Homo sapiens: one gene and its partner. The protein of the gene in region 1 interacts with the protein of each later gene in a pairwise test. Each region holds a gene or a part of one and is shown on either strand. Other genes may lie near its edges.

Region 1 (3,500 bases):
AGGATGGTCTCGCTCTCCTGACCTCATGATCTACCCGCTATGTCTTTATTGAACAAGTATTTATATAGTAGCTTCTAATACAGTGCCAAATACTACACTAAGTGCTTTCCAGGTATTAATATAGTATTAATTCTTGATATGATTAGTATCAAGAAATAATGTCGGCCGGGTGCGGTGGCTCACTCCTGTAATCCCAGGGAGGGATTTGGGAGGCTGAGGCGGGCAGATCACGAGGTCAGGAGATCGAGACCATCCTGGCTAACAGGTGAGACCTCATCTCTACTAAAAATACAAAAAATTAGTCGAGCGTAGTGGCGGGTGCCTGTAGTCCCAGCTACTTGGGAGGCTGGGGCAGGAGAATGGCGTGAACCCGGGAGGCAGAGCTTGCAGTGAGCCGAGATCGCACCACTGCACTCCAACCTGGGTGACAGAGCAAGACTCTGTCTCAAAAAAAAAAAAAAAAAAAAAAAAGAAAGAAAAAGAAATAATGTCCCTGCCAGTTAGGAATGAATTTTGGCTACAAGTAGCAGAAACCCAAATTATACTGGCCTAATGAAATCTGGAATTGATTGATTGCAGTGTTGAATCAGGGAAATCAGTGAAGTAAAGGGCAGAGCCCATAGGGATCTTGGCATTTTTCTCATAGTTACAAGATGGCTGCAGAAGCCCCACCATCACATTTGCATCCAAAGCCAGAAGAAAAGGGGCACATTGCTAGCCACATCTGCTCCCTTTTCATCACAAATGCCAAACTTTTCCCAGAAACTCCTCCAGCTGTGTGCTGGAGAAGTTCACAAGTATGTAGAGGACCAAGATTATTTAGACTATTGGTTCTCATAGTATGTGTTTTGGGTGAGTATGTTTGGAAATGTGCGGGAGGATCAGTTTTCACAATTACCTTTTAGTTGGGATAGGAGGTGGCTGCTGGTTCTGCAAAGTGCAGGACATCCCTTTTATCTTTGATAAAAGAACTTTCTTGCAAACAATGCCACTAGTGCCCCATGGGTAACAATGCAGCGTGAACCATCACATGGATGGTTGCTATACATTATTTCCAATTTTCCCCAAGTTAAATAATACAAGACTACCTTTGTGCATATGTGGTTGGATAAAATTATGCATCATAATTTTCTGAAAAAAAAAATTATTTTTTTTTTGAGACAGAGTTTCACTCTTGTCCCCCAGGCTGGAGTGCAATGGTGTGATCTCAGCTCACTGCAACCTCTGCCTGCTGGGTTCAAGTGATTCTCCTGCCTCAGCCTCCTGAGTAGCTAGGATTATAGGCACACACCACCATGCCCAGCTAATTTTTGTATTTTTAGTAGAGACGGGATTTCACCATGTTGGCCAGGCTGGTCTCGAACTCCTGACCTCAGGTGATCCGCCCGCCTCAGCCTCCCAAAGTGCCAGGATTACAGGCATGAGCCACCGCGCCTGGCCAATTTTCTGAAGATTTCTAAGATATTTACATTATGTCCAATTTTCCCCAAGTTTAACTAAGGCAAGAAATCTCTGTGTGGAAATATGATACCTTGCTGCTAGGGCACAATTAGGATGCAGTTCGCAGGAAGAGGAAGGTGGAGTGGATACTGGGCCACTACCCAGCCATGTCTGCCACCATGCCTTTTCTTCCTACCATGAATCTGGTCTGCATTACAATTCAAAGCTGTTTGGAATTAATCCGTTACTTTCCCTTTGTCCCATGGAGTTCCAGGTGGCACAACGGTGCTGGTGGAGCTGACTCCCGACATCCATATCTGCGGCATCTGCAAGCAGCAGTTTAACAACCTGGATGCCTTTGTAGCTCACAAGCAAAGTGGCTGCCAGCTGACAGGCACATCCGCAGCAGCCCCCAGCACGGTCCAGTTTGTATCGGAGGAAACAGTGCCTGCCACCCAGACTCAGACCACCACCAGAACCATCACCTCGGAGACCCAGACAATCACAGGTACAGCTGGAGCATGGGGGAGTCGGCCAGAATTGGCCTGGCTGTGTCTCAAACACGTCCATGGAACTTGTTAAAAATATAGATTCCCAGAGCCCACCCCCTAGGGTTGCTGATTCATTATTTTTAACAAGCTCCACCAGGAAGCCAGCTGCCCAGCCAGGTTTGGGAGCTGCTAGGTTAAAACATTAACTGTTAGCAGTTATAAATGTTGTCACGTTACAAAAAAAACAGACAAAAAAGAGATTTCTGAAACAAAAATCTATATACTATAGGAAAAAAAAAAGGCTGGCAGAAAATACGTTGCAATAAAAAAAAAAGTGGTTGTTTTGGGTGGTGGAAGTATGGGTACAATCCTTGAGTTTGCATTACTTGTGTAAAGGGCCAAAAAGCATGTTGTTGTTAAAAAAAAAAAATCTATAAACTGGCATTGGTATCTCCTCCCCCTTGTGCTGCTGATCAGGAAAACATCCCTGTTCTCTGTTGTGTACACTCATTCCACCAAAAATAAATTACAGATGGGTCAAAAATTTAAATGTGCATAAGAAAACCATAAAAGTTCTGGAGGAAATGTACCCACAAACACCTACACACACAGTTATACCCCTGTCTTAAGGGGCAGGAAGATAACTTTAAAATTATGAAGTAGCCCATTTATGGGATAGTACTGGATCCTGTAGGGAAACAGAGAATGTATTCCTTAGCTAAAGGCATTTGATTCTAAAAAATATATTAATATGCCTACCAAAGGAGGCAGGTTGTGGACCACCCCCTCCAAGAAAAAGAATCATATATGTGATTGCAAATGAAGTTTTACTTTTTCCGAAGTAAAATGCAAAATCTAAAGACAATCAACTTGGGGAAAAATTTGTGGCATATATGATTAAGGCCTAAATCCCTCTTATACAAAGAACTGCTAAAACCAGTAAAAGGAGATAAAAAGTGCAAAGTGGAGCCTGGACACGGTGGCTCATGCCTGTAATCCCAGCACTTTGGGAGGCTAAGGCGGGTGGATCACCTGAGGTCAGGAGTTCTACACCAGCCTGGTCAACATGGTAAAACCCTGTCTCTACTAAAAATACAAAAATTAGCCGGGCGTGGTGGCAGGCGCCTGTAATCCCAGCTACTCGGGGGACCAAGGCAGGAGAATCGCTTGAACCCAGGAGGCAGAGGTTGCATTGAGCCGAGATCGTGCCATCGCACTCCAGCCTTGGGGACAAGAGCCAGACTTCGTCTCAAAAAAAAAAAAAAAAAAGTGCAAAGTGGAAAGGTCAGTGGATGATTTACAGGGGAGGTTTGGTCACCTTAGTAATTACAAAAATGTAAATCAAAACAAGGCTTGAGGAAGGACACTGATTTCATTTTCTGGGGATATAAATTCTTATAACCAGGGCAATTTTGTGATAGCTTTCAAATCTTAAATTTAAAATTTCTTAGTTTTAAAATATACATAAAGACATTTATCCAATAAGTCTACAGCTAGGTATTCATTCTATAAAACTTCATGAACAGGCCAGGCACGGTGGCTCATGCCTGTAATCCCAGCACTTTCGGA
Region 2 (3,500 bases), on another chromosome or scaffold:
GTCAGGAGCTGCTGGGGCTCTTCTCTCCCCTCTAGCCAGGAAGGGAACTCAAAAGTGGCCCTTGCCTCAGCAGGCCTTGAGTCTGGAGGACAGTACAGCAGCCTCTGTGGTCTGCCTGGGGTGGGGATCAGCCAGGGCCCAGCTCTGAGCCAAGCAGGGGAATTGCAGTCATTGGTTCAATCAGCAAGCCCTGAGCCCAAGTCAGGGATGGAGATGGGTCAGGCCTGGGCTTTGCCTGGGGAAGCCAGACATGGAAGCCTGGTCATCCCACAGTGGGTGCATGCTGGGATTAAGAGGTGCATGAGGTGGAGAAGCAACGCAGGCATGCTGAAGGGGATGCATGGGTGGATGATACTGTATGGAAGGGAAGCACTAGCAGGATAGAGCAGCGGATGGATGGGTAGAAACCTAGAGGGATAGGCTGGGCGCAGCGGCTCACGCCTGTAATCCCAGCACTTTGGGAGGCCAAGGTGAGTGGACCACCTGAGGTCAGGAGTTCAAGACCAGCCTGACCAATATGGTGAAACCCCGTCTCTATAAAAATACAAAAAAAATTAGGTGGGTGTGGTGGTGTGCACCTGTAGTTCCAGCCATTTGGGAGGCTGAGACAGGAGAATTGCTTGAACCCAGGAGGCAGAGGTGAGGTTGCAGTGAGCCGAGATCGTGCCACTACACTCCAGCCCCTGGGCAACAGAGTGAGACTCCATCAAAAAAAAAAAAAAAAAGGAAGAAAAACGAAAGAGAGAGAGAGAAAGAAAGAAAAAAAGAAAAGAAAGAAAGAAAGAGAGAAAGAGGGATAGATGGACGGGAGGAGAGGTTGATGGATGTAAGTAGCAAGATAGGGATGGGTGGGTGGACAGATGGAAAAGTTGATATGGATACAGGACTGGATTGATAGAACAAAATATCAATGGATGATACATGGGTGGAGGGAGGGAGACTTCTGATACACAAGGCAAGATTGGTAGATGAATGGATGGAAGGATCTTTGGATGGATGGATGAAGGAATGGATACATAAATGGATACAGGTAGTGCCTGGATGTTGGGATGGGTGGATGAATACTTGAATACATGTCCATGAATGATGGACAGAGGAATGAATGGACACTGGAAGAGTGAGTGCATGGATAGGTGATGAGTGTATATTGACGGATGTGTGGATAGAGGCCTGAGAAGGCAGCTCAGTGCACAAATGGATACAAAGCAATGGATGCATGGATACGAGACACAAGTAACAGAGGAATGGACAGACATGGAGGGATGGGCAGGCGGACAGATGGAGACGGGAGTGAGAGGACCAGTGAACAGATGAGTGCCCATCAGCGGGTGAGGGACACAGAGACAGAAGGATGTGTTGGTGCGTGGATGGCACCTGTAAATGGGTGAGCGGTCACAGGGGTGGATGGTGAAGGACGGTTGGTTGAATGGGTGAAGCTTCAGGTCACTCATGCCTTGATTTCCCAGATGCCAGTGTTTTGCTCACAGACCCCCATGTCCCTCTGCTTCAGAGACATATACTACGCAGGCGCAGGGTCAGGAGGGGGCTGATCAGACAGGGAGACTTAACCCCACCTTGACTTTGGTGGGAGAAAAGCCAACCCAAACTAACAGCTATTTGGCCTTTCCAGGCCCGCTTTGCCCTGGAAGACCCACTCAGGAAATAAGGAAGAAGCAGTGAGACCTCTTCGAAAGGTCAGCGGCCAGCCGGGGTTCCTACAGGGGCGTCCTTGCCCAGGGATCTCCCTGGAAGACCTGGACAGCTGTGTACATGTCCTATCTGAGGAAGAGAACTGGGGCACCTGTGTTGGGTGCTGGGGACTGGGAGACATCAAGACCATGGCTGCCCTTGGAGATTCTGAGGCCAGCGTGGAAAATCCAGGGACAGCGGGGCAGGTGATTAGGAGCACAAGTGTGCGGATTCCCAGAGCCTCAGTGTCCTCAACTGCAAAAGGGGAATAATAATAGACACTTCTGACTGGGCGCGGTGGCTCACGCCTGTAATCCCAGCACTTTGGGAGGCCGAGGTGGGCCGATCACGAGGTCAGGAGATCAAGACCATCCCGGCCAACATGGAGAAACCCCATCTCTACTAAAAATACAAAAATTAGCTGGGCATGGTGGTGCGTGCCTGTAATCCCAGCTACTTGGGAGGCTGAGGCAGGAGAATCGCTTAAACCGGGGAGTCAGAGGTTGCAGTGAGCCGAGATCGCGCCACTGCACTCTAGCCTGGCAGCAGAGCGAGACCTGTCTCAAAAACAAAAGAGAAAAAAGAAAGAAAGGAAAAAAAATAAACTTCTGTGCTGGGACGAGGGGAAGGTTGGTGAAGGTGACCACACCTCTGCTGGCCTATGCTGCGGCCCCTGGCGCATGCCCGCACCATGGGGGTTTACCCGAGACCCCTCAGAGCCCAGTTTCCTCCTCCGTGAAGCGGGGTAGCTGCTCCTAGCTTTCAGGCCTGCTGTAAGAATGAAGCGAGGTGACGTTTGGCACTGTCAGCAGAAGCCCGGCATGCCTGCCCACTCGGCAGGGTCCTCCCAACATCCTGTGGCCTGGTCTTCCTGCTCCAATCCCAGCAGACAGTGGGCAGCCTCATGCCCCTTCTGTCCGAGCTGGCAGGGGCCAGCTTTCCAACCACAGGGGCAGTGTGTGCCAGGCAGCAGGAGAGGGGCTTGGGCATCTGGAGAGGAAACGGGTGTGAGTGCCTGACCTTTGGGGTTCTGTCCTGGGCCTGACATGCCCAAGCCATGTGACCTCCGACGGGTCACTGCACCTTTCTGAGACCCTGCTTCTTTTAGCAGAAAATAGAGCCTTTGGCTGTCCTGATGCACAGAGGCGGGTGGGGATTTGGGGTGATGACGCATGCACAGCACGGAGCTTGGCACGCAGGATGGGCTTGGGAAGCAGGACTGAATCAGATGAGTCAAGAGGCAGGGGCTGCGGTGCCAGGAGCCGGAAGCCCCTCCAGGAGAGGTTGTCCAGGCTGCTGGTAGGTGAGCAGGTCCAGGCCGTGAGCCCACGGTAGCCGGCAGCATCCTTAGAGCCTCAGGCCCAGGCGCCTGAGAGCCAGCAGGTTGTTATGACAACGGAAACTTGCCTGATGCAGCCTGAAACTCTGGAAGCAGCTCAGAGGACTGGTTGGCCAGAGCCCCCAGAACACTCCTGCAACCATGCGTGCTAGTGAAACGGCCACATCAGAGCCCCAGTGCTAATGAGTCCTGAAGTCCCTTGCTCATGCCACTTCCCAGCACTGCCATGGGCTGAGTACTGCCCCATGCCCACCTGACAGATGAGGAGGGGATGTGGCTTGCCCGCAGGCCTGTTGGAGTGTTGGAGAAGGGATTTGAACTTGGATCTGCCAGCCTCCAAGTCTCTTTCCCACTGGTAATAGGGCAGGGGCTGAACGGCTGCTGCTGGGGAAGGGCTGTCCGGGTGTAGAGGGGCGACTGTCGGGGACCATAGGGTGGGAGGAGGACACTGTGGCCTCCCGAGAGCCTGAGA

The links.
Region 2: the proteins of ZFP64 (region 1) and BEGAIN interact in a two-hybrid assay, tested with the Homo sapiens proteins (one large-scale study listed by BioGRID and IntAct).

The regions. Positions count from the first base shown.
Region 1 is NC_000020.11:52,185,280-52,188,779, reverse strand, and holds part of ZFP64 (zinc finger protein 64), read left to right. Parts: intron 1-1,708; coding exon 1,709-1,948; intron 1,949-3,500. UniProt on the Homo sapiens protein: May be involved in the regulation of mesenchymal cell differentiation through transactivation of NOTCH1 target genes.
Region 2 is NC_000014.9:100,580,918-100,584,417, reverse strand, and holds part of BEGAIN (brain-enriched guanylate kinase-associated protein), read left to right. Parts: intron 1-3,500. UniProt on the Homo sapiens protein: May sustain the structure of the postsynaptic density (PSD).